Regions from separate parts of the Homo sapiens genome. Here region 2 is linked to region 1. Evidence: fine-mapped expression QTL. A gene starts in region 1. The other region holds a variant in brackets. All regions are shown on one strand. Distances are from middle to middle.

Region 1 (10,905 bases):
TCCAGAGTCAACTTCCAATTTTCATAAGTACTTCAAAAAATGGAAATTTTTCCAGTTGAGTATAAAGCATAACTCCTCAAACAATTGGCACCAATAATTCCTCAACATCTCTAGAACTCTCAAATCTACTCAAACATGCAACCCCTCCCCAGGTAGGGCTGGGAGGAGGGGCTAGTTTTAGTTTGGGGGTTAATTTCCCCCTGACTTGCCTATGCTGTTTCCCAGTGATCATTTTTTAACTTTCCCAGAGGGGTAAAATGGTATACATTAATAAAAATGTCAAGAATATTATCTCTGGGAGGTAACCTGGAATAATTCACAATAAATTAACACTTCCCATCAGAGGGACATTGCAGCTTATAAGAATGTCACTTTGTGAGAAGTGGGAGTCCTGAAGCCATGTGATTTCCATCTACAGTTTTTAAGCCCATTCAGAGTCTACCAGGGGATAATTACTTGCTAAGATGTAACCATCCCAGCAGAATGTATTTATTATGATTCAGTTCTATCCACATCCTCAGTATCACAGCATGAAGGAAACTCTGGTCTGGTGAATAAAGCCCTAGAGGGATAAGAAATGCCAATCCTTAACACATGGCTGTATGACCTTGGGCTATTCACTTAACCTCTCTGATTCCTCAGTTTCATAGTCTGTAGAGTGACACCTCTGCTTATCCTGAGGAGAATGTGTGGAGGAATCTCTAGATTTTTACCTGAAAGTCTCTAGAAGCCTATTTGCCTAGAAAAGAAATTATTTCTATATTAGTTTCTCACCCTGCACTCTCAATATAACATAACTCTGTTAAGAACAGAATTAAAATATCAGGCAGATGCATCTTGAACTAAATTTAGGGGGCTGAGCTACTAAAGTAACAGAAGGATCTCACCATTGAGGAGTCTACCTACAACAGACCAAAGACAAACCATTTTGGCAAGTCTTCAGGGGCCTGTAGACACTTGAAGAATAAAATTATTACCACCCACAATTCCCAGGGAGCAGGCCTTCAGGAAGACAGGGATGTCAGTGGTTATTGTGATTGTTTCCCAACCTCCATATCTCTCTCCCTCATTGTGTATCAATCATGTAATTTGGTGGTGGTGGGAAGACTGACCCTACACTAAACTGCACAGATGGGTCATAATCCTGGTCCCCTATGTCATGGCTACTGGTTCAGGTAATTCAGGCCTAAGCATGGCATTACCTGGCCACAAGATTGGATCATGAATAGTCACATGATTCACTGCCAACTAATACAAGATGATGTGACATAGATATGAAGCCAAGAAATCCTACAGCCATTTTGCCATCTTCAGGGAAACAGAAAGGAGAGAGGAAAAGAAATTAGGTTTTTGATGAAATTGTTGAAATATTGAGTCTAATGAATTCTCAAGTCAGCCATACCTTTGGCCCTTCCAGTTATGTGAGCCAATGTGTCTCCCTTAGTGTTTATATCAGTTTTAGTGGATTTGTTCTTGTCTGCAGCATGAAGTATTCTAACTGATATAGGACCATTCAAAGCATGGTCACTAACCCTGAGGGTGCTTAAAGGAGGTGGTGTGAAAGTGTTTAGTCCAGAGAGGAAGGTGTTGGAAGAGAGGTACAAAAAATACCAGGTCATTTCCAATTAATTGCTCCTCCAAATGGCTCCTGGGGATGTCTTCAGGGAAAACATGGAGTTCTAAATACCCTTATGTATAAAAAGCAAGCTAATCTGAAAATGATTTAGGATAAACAATTGCTCCCATAGCCACTACTCACTTGGTGTAACTGTCTCCTTCTAGAAGTTTCGGTGGATCGATTTCTGGACATATTAAATCCAAATTAATAAGGTTTTTCCTCTGACTCATAGATACACTTCCAACAGAAGCAACTCCAACTAGGCCTGTGTCTGAAATTTTAGCTTCTCAGGGATGTAGATTTATTTAACAACATGGAGGCCAACACTTAGATAGAAGATTTCCACAGAGGTTTCTGGAGGGGTGATATAATGGAGAAAATGGAACTATAGAGAAGTAGGTCAGAGGACCTAAGCTTTCTTAGAAGTCATACCCAACCTGAATCTCCAGATATGGCTAAACTCTCTATTCTTCCCAAATAATCTGGAAGTGACAGTGCAAAAGATGGCCACAAAGAATCAGTTGTATCTAGCTTAGTTCCTTTATTAGAGTCTAGGCTAAAGTTTGGACAGTTTTTCTAACCCCAAAATAATCTCACCTCATGGAATCATAGGATGATCAAACATAAAAGCAAGACGGGTACTTAGAAACCACTTTGTTCTATCTTGTGTTTGTAAGGGTTTGGGATAAGGGAAGTACCTTGTTTCAGATAGTTAAACACCATCCTCTGTGCTGCCATGGTACCTGGTGCTTACCATTTTCAGAGCACTTGCCATATTGCATTGTCATTGCCAGTGAATACATCTGCTCCTCCTTTGAACTTGACATTCATGAAAAGCAGAAACTGTTCCTTGCTTCCTTACATTCCTGGTGCTTAGCAAAGTCTGCCTATAGTAGGTGGTCAATAAATGTTGAAGAAATCAAAGTATCAAGTCAAATGGTTAGAAAATTATGCTCCCATTAGGCAAAGGATATAGTATCTTGGTTTCATTTTCTTCGAAGGGTATAGCAGTTTCCTTCCAATGAAATAGGATGATTTCTGTTGTTGTTTTCCTGATTTTTATGAAGTTGGCAAGTATGAGGCTCACTGTACGGTATAGATCACCTCTTAGAATTCCACTGGCCAACAGTTCTTTATGCTTATCCAAGTGCACCTCTCAAGCCTGAAACAAGCACAAAGCTCATGAAGAGAAGTACACTTTTTACTTTTTGATAAAAACTGCAATGGTTATTTTCTTGCTATTTAAACTATATCATAGAGCTCATTTAAAAGTACAGATCATAGGTACTAAGGCTAGCAGGTAATCCTAAATTCAGCAGGGATACTCTTAACCACAGAGGGAGAGCTAGGTTTGGGGCTTTGTTGGCAACTTCTGGTGGCTATGATGCTGCTAGTATAATCTCTAACCCCTCGTTGGAAAATCAAAGTTGAAGTTTATAAAGTGTCTCCCTGCTCTTTTGGGTGAGGAATCGATTGCTAAAGAATTTGCATGTATTATACAGGCTTTTCAACCAACAGCAATATGCTTAGTCTACCACTGTGCCCCTGCTGGCTCAGATGAGAGTAGTCCAACTCTGCCAACAGCTGCCACTGACAGCTAAAAATTGAAAGAGTGGCAGCAGATAAAAGAGAGGGGAAAAAGGTATTGGGCAGGGGAGGATGACAATGGAAGGGATGGGTGGCATTTACATTCATGACTTCGAGGGTTTTCAAGTGCATAGGCACCAAAATACTTTTCTGCCTCTCATCTTTAGTTACTGAGCCACCCTCATCACTCTTCAAGCCAAATGACAGTGAAGATGGCCACAGATCTTTTCTTCCACCTCCTCTTACAGCTGGCCAAGCATGGCTGGGGACGTGGCTACTTTCAGGAGTGAAGTGAGACATGCTGAAAGTCACTTTCTCCTCGTACAAAATATATTGTTCACTCACATGAAATCAAAACTAAAACCTCCTCATTAAAGTTGTTCCTTTGGGACAAGGCATTGAAGGCTCCTATTAAAATGCAACTGTGTTATCTAAAAAGGAGAAACACCTAGTGCCTGGCACAGAGTAAAGGTTCTTTAAATGTGACATTTTAATATTAAATTGTCATTGCCTGCCATTAGAATCTTAGTAAAGATTGTCTCCCGGGCCTTTTGAGGAGCCACAATGGAAAGATTTTAATGTGGAACATTGGCATAGACTTGATAGCAGAGTCTGAAGTTATGTGGAATATGAGGAGAGAGGAGGATGACAGCATGAGGAAACTTGGGGGACAAGAGGGCACTTTTACTAGGTGAGAAAGAGGGAAGGGAGTTTGGAAATTAACATTTATTGATTTTTCTCTGAGGCAGGCACTGAATTAGATGCTTTCATATCAATTATCTTACTTAATTTTCACAACTGCCTTATAAAGAAAGATATTAATATTCCCATTTTGAAGATGAGAGAACTGGGGTTCAGATTAACAAAGTTGTTCAAGGTCACACACTGCCTGTATGTGATGGGACTTAGACTCGAACCTGGACGTGTATGCCTCCTAAGCCCATGTTCCCGAATAATGCTATGTCCCTGTCTACATTTGGCAGGGGATGACCAACCTTACCTCTGCTACCCGCTTTGCCCTAATGCTTCTTCCACTGAAAAGATGAGTCTCCTCAGACTCTCATGTTTCTCCTTCACTCCTGTCCATGAAATATCAAAATGGAGACAAAAGATTTCTATGAGTGGTGGGTGGGAGGAAATTATGCATTATCAGAATGAATAGAAATTTGGGAAGAGCCTAGGACAATTTTTCTGGTTTGAAGCCATTTTGTTCCATTGTTCCAGGCTCCAGACTACGTCTCGCCAAATCCAAAGTTCTGTAGCAACTGATATACTAGCTGGGCTCCAGGGTCCTTCTATCCCCTGTATATTCCCAATTTTATCCCCGATGTATATCAGTTCGCTTTACACTGGCAGGAGAGTTCATGTTCCACTTAGACCAGGAGGAGAGGATATGAAAAGGAAAATAGCAGGTGTGGGGAGGATAAAACCCATGCCTTCTACAGTAACTGTAAAGTAAAAGTGAAAAACGTGAGAGATAAAGAGGATTCTTTTTCCTCATTGCGGGAGAAAGGGGCTAGGGAGAGGAGTCTATAGCCCAGGAGGTTCATCCGCAGCATGCTATGGAGAAGGCCACCGTCACTGAAATCCGGTCTGTACTGTAGGACTTCATAGGTTCTTTGCTCGCCTTAGAGCAGAGGGGAAGAAGAGTCAGAAAGAATTGATAACCTCTGAGGTCATCAGTCAGGGGCCTAGGCTGCTAAGTCCAGAGGCAACACCAAGGGATCAATGCAGCTAGGTACAGTTTTCTCCAGCCTCAACTTTCAATCCCCACCCCCAGACCAGCTCATTCCCACACCTCCCTCCTCCTTGGTCAGTGAGCCTGAGCGTCCTTTTCATTAACCTTTTAGTTACTACCTCTACGCACATACTTTTTCCTATGCCCTCCAAAGAAGTCAGCCCCATACTGCCCATCACTGCTCAGCACCGCCCACCCCATGCCCCCGCAAGCCGGCCTCAGCACTAGTTTAAGGGGAGGGACACGCCTCCCAAAGCTGCGGGGATGGGGGTGGGGGTTGCTCACTCGCCCTCGGATCTCTGCTGTAAAAGCGGAGCGGCAGAGACCGGGCATGCGCAGCATCTTCGGGCGCATTGTGATGGGAACTGCTTCTCTGAGTCTCTACAAAGACTCCGGAGTAACCACTAATGGCCCTCCTAAGGCCCCCCTTCTTTAAGACAGACACACAAACACAGAGGCAATGCAGCTATTTTTTTTTAAAGGGTGGGAGGACGTTGCAGCTTGAAAGGTTGATCCACGTTAGGAGTGGTGTATTTCTATTGATCCCATCTCCGGTGTTGACAAACGCCAGCGCCTAGGCTTTGCAGTCCGGGGCTGCAGTTTGCAGTAGAGCTAAGCGGTGTGCGGCTTTAATTCCACGTCAGATCAACTTTGATCAATATCCCCCTACTGGCCCAATTGGAAGAGCCCAATTCACCGGCACTGAGCCTTTTCGCTCTTTCCTTTTTTTCCCCCCCTCTTTAGACCTACCATCTTTTGCGGGGGGGGGGGGGCGCGGAGAGAGTCTCAGATTGTCTTGATAATTTATTCTTTCGTTCTCTTTCTTTTGCTTCTCTATTTTTGTTTTTCAGTGTTTTGCTTGTTTTGTTCTGTTTTAGGATTTTATTCTCTCTCTCTCTCTCTCTCTCTCTCTCTCTCTCTCTCTCTATCATAGGGACAGAAATCGCTTTGGCAAACCCAGCTTGCAGCCAATGAACCCGCCTTCCAGATTGGTGTGAAGACAGAAGTGAGGTGGGGGGAAGGGAGGGGGTGTGAGAGATCCTGGGAGCGAGAGGGAGAGAGAGGGAGCAAGAAAGGAAGAGAGAGCGAGCGAGAGAGAGCGAGCGAATAAGAGAGAGAGTAAGAGGGAGAGAGAAGAAGAGGAAGAAGAGGAGGCGGCGGCAGCGGAGGAGGAGGAGGACTAGTGTGGGGTGGAAAGGAAGAGTGAGCGAGAGCAAGTTAAGGGGAGGGGGTGTAAGAGCCAGCGAATTCTTTTTCTTTTTCTATTATTATTTTGACGACTCCTGAGTTGCGCCCATGCTCTTGTCAGCTTCGTTTTAGGCGTAGCATGGCCAGGCAGAAGAAAATGGGGCAAAGCGTGCTCCGGGCGGTCTTCTTTTTAGTCCTGGGGCTTTTGGGTCATTCTCACGGAGGATTCCCCAACACCATCAGCATAGGTAAGCGCAAGCGAGCCAGCCGTCGGTCCAGGCTCTCCCTCACCCGAGACCACTGCCCCGGCAAGGCTTTCCCTGCGGTGGGTCCCTGTCCTGCGTGGCCTGGGAACTGGGACTGGGGCCGGGACCGGGCAGAGATGGTGCGGGGCGGGGGGCGGGGCGGGGGGAATCTGAGCCTCAACGAGGTGGCTGGTCTGAAGAGCCTCTGGGACAAGAGAGGGGTCTCCTGGGGCTAGTGGGGGTGAACTGCTAGGTTTTCCGAGCCGAGAGGAGCACCGGAGGCGAGCAGGAGGCTGGGATGCTGCAAGGGGGTGAAGAGTCGAGGCTTTTCGGCTCGCTGCTCTGGACTTTGCCATGGCGTGCGTGCAGCTCCTGGAAGTTGTCCCAGGGTGATGCCGACTGTCTGGCCGCGCCAGGGCGCATAACCCGGGCCCGGGGTGCTCAGTCCGTGGTCTCCGGCTGTCGGGAGACAGGCTGGTGCTGGGGGAGGTGGAGCCCACTTTGGATCTCCCAGACCCGGGCAGCAGCAGGCGTTGGTGGTGGATGGGGTAGGAGGCGGGGGTGAGACTAGGAGCTGAGCGGGCAAGCGGCGAAGTCACGCAGACCACGAATTCATGAATTGCCGCTGTGTCTGTCTGGAGCCCGGCTCCTGGGCGCCTGGAGGGAGTTATCTTGGCTTCTGTCGTATTTACAAGTCTAGAAGTTAGAATTTTTGCCATTACTGAACCAACCCCCTGTATTGTCACGGGGGAGGGTGGCTATGGGGAACGGGTTGGGGTAGCAGGGGGAACAATATTGTTTTTCTTCCCAACCTTTCCCTTCACACAATGAAAAGATGACCAGCTGTGCGGATGGGCGGGGGGCGGAGGGGGGGGGCGACTAAAAAAAAAGAAGGCTGCCGACTAAGAAAGAACCAAGTCTCACTCTTGGTTCCATCGTCCTAACCCAAAACGGCTCCCTCGTCTCTTCTCCCTTCTCTCTAGCCTCTTCTTTTCAGTCTAGAAAAGCCAGGTTTCTCTTGGCCAAAATCTGAGTTCACAAGTCTTGAAAGACACACAGGTTGAATATCAATCCTCAATCCCACACCCCAGTATCATTGAGAGGTATCCGGTATCTATATTGTTCCCCAATTCCTAACTGGCCCTAGTGTGGGGGAACACAAGCCAAATCTCCGTTCCCTTTGCTTATAGGTGGACTTTTCATGAGAAACACAGTGCAGGAGCACAGCGCTTTCCGCTTTGCCGTGCAGTTATACAACACCAACCAGAACACCACCGAGAAGCCCTTCCATTTGAATTACCACGTAGATCACTTGGATTCCTCCAATAGTTTTTCCGTGACAAATGCTTGTAAGTAGATCTGCTTTTCCTCCCTTTGGGACGTTGGGGACCTCATTTGCATCTTTCTTGTGGCACTTAGGGTCTGTGTATGTGCTGGGAGATGATTGCTTCAGTAGATATTTTAGGGGCTCTAATCCATCCGGTTTCATGTTGCATAAATCAACTCCAAATGATACTGCTGAGGGGCTTAAGACAGTGGGAAAAACTCAAGACAGTGGGCAAAAGTCTGCTCCAAATAGTGTTTGATGCAAAAGTTTCATTTTCCTCCATGCTAACCTAGTGTGTTCCTTCTCCAACACTCTCTCTCTTTTTTTTTTAACTGGGGAAAAAAAAAGAAAGAAAGAAAAAAATAGCACGGTTGTTCAGAGAAATTTCTTCAGATGAGATTTAAAAAAGCAGCAGCAGCTTCTTGATTGAGTCAATTCAGGATGTACATCACTTGACTGTTAAAGCTAGTGCCTGGCTCTAGGAACGAGCTGAATTTGACAATTGCCTAATGTGTAGGAAGCAAATATGAGAAATTCTGCAAACAAGTGACCTTGAGGGGCAGAACAGGCTGGGTTCCCTGGCCTCTTTCTGTCCTCAAATATTACCTTACTTACTGAGAGAGCTCTGATAGGAACTCATAAGACTACAAACTGATTGCAAGTGATGAATGCCTAGCAAACTGAGGGGAGGGGAGAAAATGGTGATCAGGTGATGATTTAGAAAGCTAGTTCTGCCTCCCCTAGTGTTGTTCACCCCCATGATCATTAAAGACAACACAGTTCTTAATTTAGAGCAAAGAGGGGGCAGGAGGAGAGGAGGCTTGGAGCAGGAAAACTGAATATGGAAAGAGAAGAAATTCATCAGGCCCAAAGCCGGTTCTGAAATCCTTAGTTGTACCGGGTGATTATTCCTCTGAAAAGGGGACATTTTGTAAAATACAACCAAAGGAACCTAAATGGCTAATAGCCTGTTGGACATATGGTTTTACTTGAATGGAATGTTTCGTGAGAAAGACTGAGAATACTTCATGTAAGCTTATTTCACTAAAAGTTTTCACAACAATGAGGCTGAATATGGTATAAAATATGCTTTGCTTTTATGGCTGATGTAGTTTGGAATTTGGGGTTTTTCTTCCTTTCTCTTCCAAGGGAGAAATGATATTTATGTTTGGATGGGTGAAACTTTGTATATGACTTTCTTTAAATCCTTCTGCCTCAAAGGATGCATGGTTTCCAGAAACCACTGAAAGGGTCTCTCCAAGGGCACAGGTTTCTTGGCTTTGAAGACTTGGGCCAAGAGGATGGGGGTAACATACTCTGCAAGAAATATGACAGTTGTCAGCTTTAAGAAAATTTTAGCTGAAGATACAGATCCTTATATGAACGTGTTCTGAGATACTCCATATTTGACTTTCTTTGGCTTTCTGACATTGACAAAAATAGGAATTTATTAATTCCAGCTAGTGTGAAAGTTACGAAATGTCTGTCTATACTTTGCATCTTATTTTGGTAATCCCAGCCTGTCTCCACAGCATTTACAACACGCATCTGACTCTTAATCCTGCAGCACTGTGATCTTGTCAAGAGGCTGAATCTCAAATGCAGCTTCCTAAATATCAATTAGAACAGATTTAAAACTAAATACATTAAACTACCAGGGTTTATTACCATTAGTAACAAATAATATTTATTTCAACTCCCTTCAGTGTCTTTTCACTGATGAGAACTGGGATAAGAGAACCATTTGGTTTCTCAGAAATGATTGATTTCCAAGGTTTTTGGTCCTGTTCTTATGGTCAAACCAGATTGACACCCACCAGCCCTGGACTGTCAGAACCCCACTCAAGAAGCAATCAGAAATGATTCTTGCCATGTGAAAATCTCAGGTTTAGGAAAAGGCAATAAGTCATCCATATTGGTATTGAGTTGCCTTATTGCCTTACCTCTCAGGGCAATAAGAGAACAACCAGGGGAAAGGAAAAGAAATTGATCAAAATCCCTCACCGTAAATTCATAGCATTTCCACTTACAAGGCTGGGTTGTGGCTAGGGGCTTGAGAGTTCGGGAGAAGGAGTGTGGCTCACTGGGCAACAAGAAAAAGAAAATGAAAACGTGACCTTGCCCTTAGTTATGTCAAATACACATGTATGCATGCACAGACATACGCAGGAAAAATAGCTAGAAACCAGTGTTGTGTATCCAGCTGCCTGTTGCTTTCTCTGAAGACAGAGGAGGAAAGCTGTCATCTTCTCTGGTCCCTGAAACAGTCATCTCTGAATGTCACAATCATTGAATGGGGGCCAGATCTCAAAGCTGTCTCTAGGCAGCTGCTGCTTGGTAGCTTAGTATGAGAAAGATGACTCGTCTAACCATAGTCTTGGAATGCAGAAACCAAGTATTTCAAGGGACCAAAGAAGCCCTGGAGGTGTTTCTCATTTCTACCCCTGGCTTTAATTGTTCTTTTTCTTGTGGAAGCGGAGATCAAATATTTCCAACTGGGTTGAAATTCTAGTTCAGTGCTGGAGCCTGACAGGTGACCCCCAGGTTCCACTCCTCCAAATGATTGCCCTGATTGTGCAAAGAGAAACCTCTGTATCCTCCGGCCTGTCCTTCTCTGGAGACCTAGGGAGAATTCCAGAAAACAACAGATGAGTCTCAATCTGGCCAACCACCTCTCCTATCTGGTTCAATATGGAATGGGCTGGCAAAAATTAAAGAAACTTTCCCTTATTCCTATGCAAAATTCCTAGTTTCAACTTCCCTTAGCACTAGAATTGATCTCTTCTCATGATCTTTCCTGCACCCTCAATCCTGAGGCAGGCACACACTTTCTAGGGTGTAGGTGTGCAGGTAAACGAATACACAAAGAATAAACAAAGGGTAATTCTTTCATATATGTGTCCCTGTTCTCTGTTCTCCCTCCACATCACCCACCCCTACAACCTCTGACAATGTGTTTGAAAGGTTTCCTTGCGATGAATCCCAGGCATCAGTTATTTAAAGACTCTTCTTCATCAGAAACCAATTTTTTTGCACAACCCCCAAGAGGTTTGCTTAAGACAGACTCCAACTTTATTCCATGTCCTACGAGGCCAATAAGAGCCACACTGGCTTTGAAAGGTGTTTAATTTGGGATCTCAACTCAGAGATGGATTGAAGTTTATCTAAGAGACTTACCTGATTTGAAGCACATGTTCCCATT
Region 2 (8,000 bases), 130 kb after region 1:
TTCATATCAGATGCCCAGGCAGATAGGACTGATGACTGTCCTCTGGATCTCTTGCCCCTCCCTACTCTAGGATTCAGTCCAGCATCTTCACTACATGCAGCCCTTCCTACCTACCTGTGTGGGAAGCCACTGTGCGCTGTAGTCTCGGTGCCAAGAATTCGTTGGCTACAGACCTTTGTGAGCCTCCATGGCTGATAGGAAAGGCAACGGACAACAGGTTAATAGATGAGATTGTGCTGCTCATTTGGACTGAGTACTGAAAAGTTCTTTCCAGCCCAGTAGTGTTGATTTTCCCTGGGTCTGCCTTGTTTGGAATATCTCCAGTAGTGAAGACCCTGACTTGCAACTCAGTATGTCCTAGATCCATCTACATAAATTTTTCAGCATGTTAACAGCTTTGACTTGGGCCTAGGTTGAGCAAGTTGGTCACTCTCTAAACTTTGCCAAATCATGTCCTGGTCCCCTGCTAGCCCTACACTGTTCATGTCCCATCCATAATCTCCACTGCAGCCTGGGCCTTTCCTGCTCTTGAATTACCAATCTGTGTTAACCAGCCAAAGCGTAGTTCTCAGTCGTTATACAAGAATGACTAGGCCAGTGCTTCTCAAATTTTGATGGGCTAATGAATCACCTGAGAAGCTTGTTAAAATGTACATTCTGGTTCATTAAGTCTAGAGTGGGGCCCAAGAGTATGCAGTTCTAACAATCAGCCTTGGTGATGCCAATGCTGCTGATCCATAGACCATACTTTAAGTAGCAAGTAGAGCATCTTTAGGGTCTTCTCTGTAATTGATATGCTGATGTAGAGGCCACACTTTAAGTAGCAAAAACATATGCTCATTTCCCAAATGAGTTAGACCCGACTTGGCTGCTTGAAATAAGACATTGTGGCACATCAACCTCTCTTCTTGGCAGTCAACAATAGCATCCTTTCATATTAAGGCTAAAAGAATTTTTAGGGTAACCAGGGCTGTGCAGAGGGTGTGACAAATGTGAACCTTAGTGTAGAGTATTCTTCTTAGGACTTGGGTTACTGGAAAAAAGCCTTCCTGGGCACCTGAAGCCAATCATGCAGGCCAAACTCATTTCGTATCCAGCCACTCCATTCATCGCACCCACTTTCATAGTGGTTCTGGATGGCTGCTGCCGCCACATCACTCATGCTGTGATCTGCATCAGTGGTTGAGACAACGGAAGCAGCTACATCATCCAAGCCACAATCCATTTATTTCATGCTAAGAAAAACAATCTTCTATCCAAGTGGGGCAAGCTAAGCTGGGCAGTTGCCACAACTTTAAGGTTATAGGAAATATGCCTTTTGCGCTATTTACCTCCTCAGTGGAGAGCAATGACCCCCTTGAAGAGGACCCAGATTTCATCAGTGCATCAGTGCCATGCCAGGCAGAGCAAGCCCATTTCTCCTCTGAGGCATAAGGCGTATAACTCCTGGAGTTGTTTAAACATAGATTTTCAGGCCAGGCGCAGTGGCTCATACCTGTAATCCCAACATTTTGGGAGGCTGAGGCAGGTGGATCACTTGAGGTCAGGAGCTCAAGACCAGCCTGGTCAACGTGGTGAAACCCTGTCTCTACTAAAAATACAAAAAAATTAACAGGGCCTGGTGGCACATGCCTGTAGTCCCGAGAGGTGGAGGTTGAACCTGGGAGGTGGAGGTTGCAGTGAGCCAAGATCGTGCCACTGCACTCCAGCCTGGGTGACAGAGAGATACTCTGGAAAAAAAAAAAAAAGCCATAAGTTTTCCAGAGAAACTAACTGCCTTGTTTCTCGTTTCTCTCTAAAGGTAATTCTTGAATCCTTTCCTCTTTAGCATTGCTGCTGATTGTGTTCTTTGCTCAAATAATAGCTAATAAACTTCAAAGAACATTTGTATTTGTTTTGAGGGATGCTCTGTTATGTTGATATTTACAGAGTTAAACACTGCAGATGGGGAGTTTTCCCTAAGAAGATTCCAAAGCATTATGATTTTGTGGTTTTGATCCAAAATATATACATGTTTTATGGCCTAAGGGGGTTGTCAAACAGTGTTTTAAAAAACACTGGCAAATTTAAGATGCCTTTAAAAGTAGGACAGCTTGGGGATCCAGAAGGGCCCCACACCTACATTTCCCAGTGGCTGTGTAGAAACAAGTCTTGCTGGGCTGGCCTATTGCTGGCTCTGGTGGGGTCTCCAAGCTAAAGGAGTAGTCCTCATTAACTTTTTCCCTCTTATCCACTATCCCTGCCCACCTAGGCAGGTTACTAAACTCTCCTGGAGAGCTTAATAAATACTTTCATCTTCACAGGACCTGACAACTCCATTTTCCTCAAAATGATACATAAGACTTAAGACACTGGCCAAGGGGATCAGATGCCCAGCCAAGAGGAACTGAACCATTTTGTTAAGTTCTGTCAATGAGTACTTTGCCTGAATGAGCATAGAAGCTCTTTGGGCATGGCCAACTAGTCCCTGCACTGACCCAGTCATTATGATGGCTAGCTATGTGATTTATAATTAGATTCATTTTATTCAAATAAATTCCTAGCCAGTATGGTTTCCCAGAAGTCCATCTCAAGAGTTGTCATCTTAACTCTAAGTGACTCAGGGCTTTCCCCCTGTAAACTCTCCAGCCCCAGATTCTAGTTTGCTGAAGCACTCCTAAATTCAGTCACTGCCATGTGGTTGTTTGTTCTTTGCAAATATTATAGTTAGCTCAGCTGGGTATATCCCCTGGTTAAATGAAGCCAAAGTCATGACTTTGATGACTGCTAGTGCCAGTCAGCTTACTTCTCATCCAGAGATCTAGACTTTTCCCTCCATCTTGGCCAGCCAACCTTCTTAGTAATCTATGCCATCAATGGCAAAGAAGACTAGATCAAATGGTGAGCTGGCTTTGCTTACATCTCTTTGCTTTATGCTCCACAGCTCTAGACAAAGTGTTAATTTCCAAGTGAAATATTATTTGGGAACAATCAGGGTAAGGGAGCAGAAATCTTTAGAAATATATTTTCTCTATCTCTCCTCCTTTCATATTATCTTTCCTTTTTTTCTAAATTCTAGCCTCCTTTTGTCTCTTATCAAAATAGAATTCTCAACCAGGCATGGTGGCTCACACCTGTAATCCCAACACTTTGGGAGGCCAAGGCGGGCGGATCACTTGAGGACAGGGGTTCAAGACCAGTCTGGCCAATATGGCGAAAGCCTGTCTTTACTAAAAATACAAAAACTAGCCAGGTGTGGTGGCACACACTTGCAATCCCAGCTACTCAGGAGGCTGAGGCACGAGAACCTCTTGAACCCAGGACATAGAGGTTGCAGTGAGCCGAGATCATGCCACTGCACTCTATCCTGGGCAACACAGTGAGAATCTGTCAAAAAAAAAAAAAAAAAGAAATTCTCTTGATCTGTCCTGCAAATTCTGACAGTACCTATTTATACAATCCTTATGGGACTCCCAGGAATAGAATATCATTTTACAGATGAGGAAACTGAGTCCCAGAATGGAAAAAAACAACCACATGCTCATGTATTTTAATGAGGTCCCCAAGACTTTTTTAGAAGGTAAATCTTAGATTGCACGCAAGTTCAAACATTTATAATGCCTTCTCTGAACTTTCTCCTATGGGCAAAGAAAAAGGTTGGAAAGTTTTTGAGAATGAGCATGGCTGTAACATAATCAAAAGAGTGAAGAAGTTAAAGCTGACCTTAGTGAGAAGCTTGCATGAAAGAGGACTGCTGGAGTAGCCCAAGCATGTACCAATAATAACTTCAGAATAGCTGGTACTAATTAGA[G/A]CGTAAAGAATGTGGCAGAACACAAAGAATTAATATATTTGACTTTGTGTACTCTTAGGGCAGTGGAAGGCTCCAAGATAGTATTCAAATTTTGTAACTAGGAAATTTGACAGAAATAAGAAAGTCAGAAGAAACCGCTGCTTTGGAGGCAGGGATATCTGAGAGAGTGTGAAGAATAAGTAAGGACACAAACAATAATAAAACCTGCCCAGTCTAGGAACTCCAGCTCAATTACAAAGTTGGTGATTAACTGACAGGAAACATACCATTAGCCAGAGAACCATGACTGTGTTTCTTTTAAGCACTGACTTACAATTGATTGCATGGCCTGTATCCCTGTGAGCCTGAAAAATCCTGGGCATCTTCAGGTATTTACACAACAATGTGTTCTAGAGCCCTCCCTGCCATGGAGTAACACATAGAAAAATGTATGATTCCAACTTTCCTGGACAACTGCACATGTTGGAATAATTTCAGTCACTGATGGGGGGAAGAAATAAGAGTGCGAACTTAGAATCCAGACTAGTTAAGTGTTTTTCTTCATGAACATGTGCGTCTCTGAGCCTCAATTTCCTCACCTGGTTATTTGGGATAACTATGTACTCTTTAAGATTGGAAGAATTAAACGTGATAATGTGTATACATTGTTAGCTCTGTACTCAGCCCAAAGTAGACAATAAATGTTCATTTCTATCCTTGACCCCGCCTTGACAGCCCAAGGGAAAATAGTTCAATTTAAAACCTGAGGGATGAGAGTAAAAACATTATACATCACAATACAAGAAAACCACAAATCTCTTAGTCAAAAAATGATTTAAATTTGGCATTCAGCTATAATCCCTCAGAGATGGGAGTAACCATCTATAGCCTAAGATTCTCAGGCTAATAGAAGATGGATGTGAGAGCTCGGAATCTTCGTTTCCCACTATCTCAATCAGATGATCTGTTCAGTGATACGTATTTTAAGGTGAGTCTTAATGAATGAAAGGTTTGTGGGATGGAAGTGAGGCTTTGTGGTGGAGGGCAACCAGAGTAAATCATGAGAGATGGAAAATGCTGGAGAAGGCTGTGCCTTGCATGAGAATTTGTGTGAGTAAGCAGGGTGAACCAAGCCAAAGGCTTTGGAGCCTGCGTAGATTAGAGTGGGCCTCAGTGCCAAATGGGAGTCCCAGCTAGATTTGAGGAGGAAGATATGCTTTAACACACAAACTTGTTTGTGGGCTCTCTCACTCCTCCATGCAAAGGTACTGAAGGAAAGGAGAAGAGCCCTTAAGGAAGTCACAGATGTGTTGTAGGCAAAGTGCAAGGGATATATCCATCATGACATTCCTATTGGATTTTAACTTTTAGTCTATATCAAAATGAATCTTTATTCAGAAAATGCCACAGAAACTTTGTTTTACATTAATATTGAAAGTTAAAAGAAGACAAGTATTGTGGTCATGGTCAAGTTTGGGATCTATCATTGGGGCAAACCATTTTGTCTTTCTGGGCTTCAGTTTCTTATTGGCACAATGAAGAGATTGGGACCATCACTAATTCTGGCTCTCATATTTGAGAATTCTGAGAAACTTGGAAGAACTCTGGCCACCACAAACAGCCTGACTTCTCTGCAGCTCACACAAGATTCAGCCACTCTTTCTGGAACCCAAGGCCTTGACATTAGCCTATAACCCGCCTCCATAATGCCAAATTCACTCTCATATCCCCATTGGAAAAAACTCAATTGAAAGTAAACAACTAATCAAAGTGAGTTGATCTTGGGGGTGTTTTACGTGGGTTTCTTTAGTATGGTGGATGGCACATGAAAATACTTATTTATCTTGTGAGTTTTGAACCCCATTTTGGGTGTTTCCCAAGCAGATTTTAAACCACAGTATTAAGTCAAAAAGAACTTGTCTTCCGCAAGAGAACAGCATGTTCTCTGTTGTCCTCAGGACTGTATCTTTGGCTCCTCTGTACCCTCTAGGCAAGAGTTTGCCCTTAATATTACCTTTGACAGCCCTCCAATGGTATTAGGATCAAGGAGTCTCAGCACTCCTGGAGGCACAGCAGGCAGAATAAGCTACAGTCCTTTGCACTCAGATCCAGACACTTTTCATCTTTGGCATACATTCACCCCCACTTCCTTCCCCCTTTTCCTTCTCACTGGTAACCATCATTCATACCTCACACCCAGAACTCAGAAATGTTAAGAGGTTTATCTTGGCCTTGCTTTTTAAAAATTGAGAATGCTGAAGAATGTTCCCAGATAAGTGACTTGCCTGATGAGAAGCCTTTTGCTTAGTGGAACCTAAACACATACTTTCTGAGCTCAAGTCTCACTTCAGTCAGTTCACTTTACAAGTCCATAGGCACAGGCCACAATGTGAACTACTCTGCACAGAAGTTCAGGGTATGGATGCTCAATATAAAATATACTCACTTCTGGGAATCTCTTCAAAGTTCATCTTCTGCTGGAGAAGGGGCAGCAGGGTGGGTGGTCATCTTCTTCTTTGTAGTCACTAGGTTCCATGTGGAATAAATGGGACCTGGGAAGAAGATGTACTGTGGCTGACTGGTAGCACTCCTTCCTCCAACCCATAAGTGAAGCCCCCTTTTAATCATGCATAAGGCCTTCCCCCCACTGCCACCCAACTAGGGCTGGCAAGTGCATTCTCTGGTTGTGATCTATGGTCAGCTCTCTGCCCCGGGTATCTATAAAGTGCTTACTAACATCCATGTCACTCACTACTTGCTCTCTAGGAGACGCAGTCACAAGATCAGAGCTGGAAATTACGGATTTCAAAGGGATTAAGATGCCGAATGAGGAAATGTCATGTAAGAAACCCTATTCATGGGCATGATTAATCCTCTCATGGCATCTGTTAAGAGCTCAACAGTCCATGGAGAAACTTTGAGATGACTCCTGCCCTCTGTGAGTTTGCATCGCAGGCAGTCTATCCCAGAACAATTATTTAGATACCAAACAGAAACATGAAGGAACTACACACAATCATTGTAGCATCCCCTTCAATCCAAACCCCAGTTGCTTTCTGTTATTTTTATTTTTTTTATTTTTTATATCAGATATTGTGTGGGTGAGGATCAGAGGCTTGCCTATTCTGCTCTTCCCAGATGTTAAGTAAATCTACTCCAGATGGTCTTCTAAATTTCCTTTCAGCTGACAATGCAAAGCAAGTTTACTTTCACTCAATGAAACTGACATATCTATTTGGGCATGTTTTCTTAGCTCACAGAGAGGAGAATGGAGCTACATAATTCACCAACAGGGAGACAAAGTTCAAATAAGGAACAAGATGAAAGAGAAAAATGGAAAAGGCAGGATTACATGCATTGCCAGCTTCAGAGCCAAGGTTACACTTGACTAGTAGTCAGTAGCTGCCTCCTGGAGTGAGCTATTGGAGTACTTGGAATGCCTCAAGTAAGATATTGGGGTACCTGTTAGCTCAAGTTGCCAAACAATACTTGATCAATCACTTACGGCTGTCTACAATTTGCCCCTGTATTGTAAGTCTTTGGTTCTAATATTAAAACATACATCCTTCATGAAGGAGGTCACAGTTGAAGCTGTTATCAGTCATGGACAGTCTAGTATAAGAGTTTCGTTTGGATTGAGAGACAATTTGTATTGGGAGAGAAGAAAAAGCACAAACAACTGGGAAACTGGGGTCACCTTCTGTTCAATGATTCCACAAATTAGCCAAGTACTCATCCTAATAATGCAGCTGCAAGGAGAAGAAGATTTGCAGAGGGTCAGCTCTTAATTAAAGGAAAATTTAAACAAATACAATTATAAGGAATGGAAGTCTCAGGGAAATATTAATTTGCTAACGGTAAATTAAGGATTGAATGTCGGTGAATATTTGTCTTTACCTTGTTCCATAAAATTCACAGACTGACATCCATATGCAAATATAAAGGGGTTCTTGATCTTCCCATATCAAACTCTTCACACACAGAACAGTTTCTGTATTAGCGTCTCAAATTTAGACAATCACTATATTGATTTTGATGGAAAATAAAAGGGTTTAAATCAAGTTAAAACAAAAACAAACAACAAAACAACAAAATGTGGATTCAAATGTGCTATAGAAGTCTTTCCATGAATTATTTTTAAATGAAAGTATACTTTGTAATATGAATAGTAATAGCCTGAAGTACTGGCTCTGAGTTCAGATTTTTGTATATCAGGTTTCTGAGATATGGG

Alleles and levels. Positions count from the first base shown, and alleles are read on the strand shown. Sizes are in standard deviations (SD) of each study's normalised expression.
With allele G in place of A in region 2, the expression in thyroid of the gene that starts at base 6,013 in region 1 is higher (large effect, 1.0 SD a copy in GTEx).

Evidence for each region. PIP is the estimated chance that this variant, and not a neighbour inherited with it, causes the effect.
Region 2: its variant is fine-mapped to the expression of GRIA3 in thyroid (GTEx, PIP above 0.99).

What each region holds. Positions count from the first base shown.
Region 1 is chrX:123,178,266-123,189,170 of GRCh38, forward strand. GRIA3 (glutamate ionotropic receptor AMPA type subunit 3) reads left to right here and starts at 6,013. Exons shown (of 16, transcript NM_007325.5): 1 at 6,013-6,379; 2 at 7,567-7,725. The coding sequence starts at 6,271.
Region 2 is chrX:123,307,630-123,315,629 of GRCh38, forward strand. The region is part of intron 3 of GRIA3 (glutamate ionotropic receptor AMPA type subunit 3); the gene reads left to right. Among named protein-coding and RNA genes, the nearest start is that of GRIA3, 130 kb to the left of the region's middle. The variant G/A (reference allele first, on the strand shown) is at 3,791.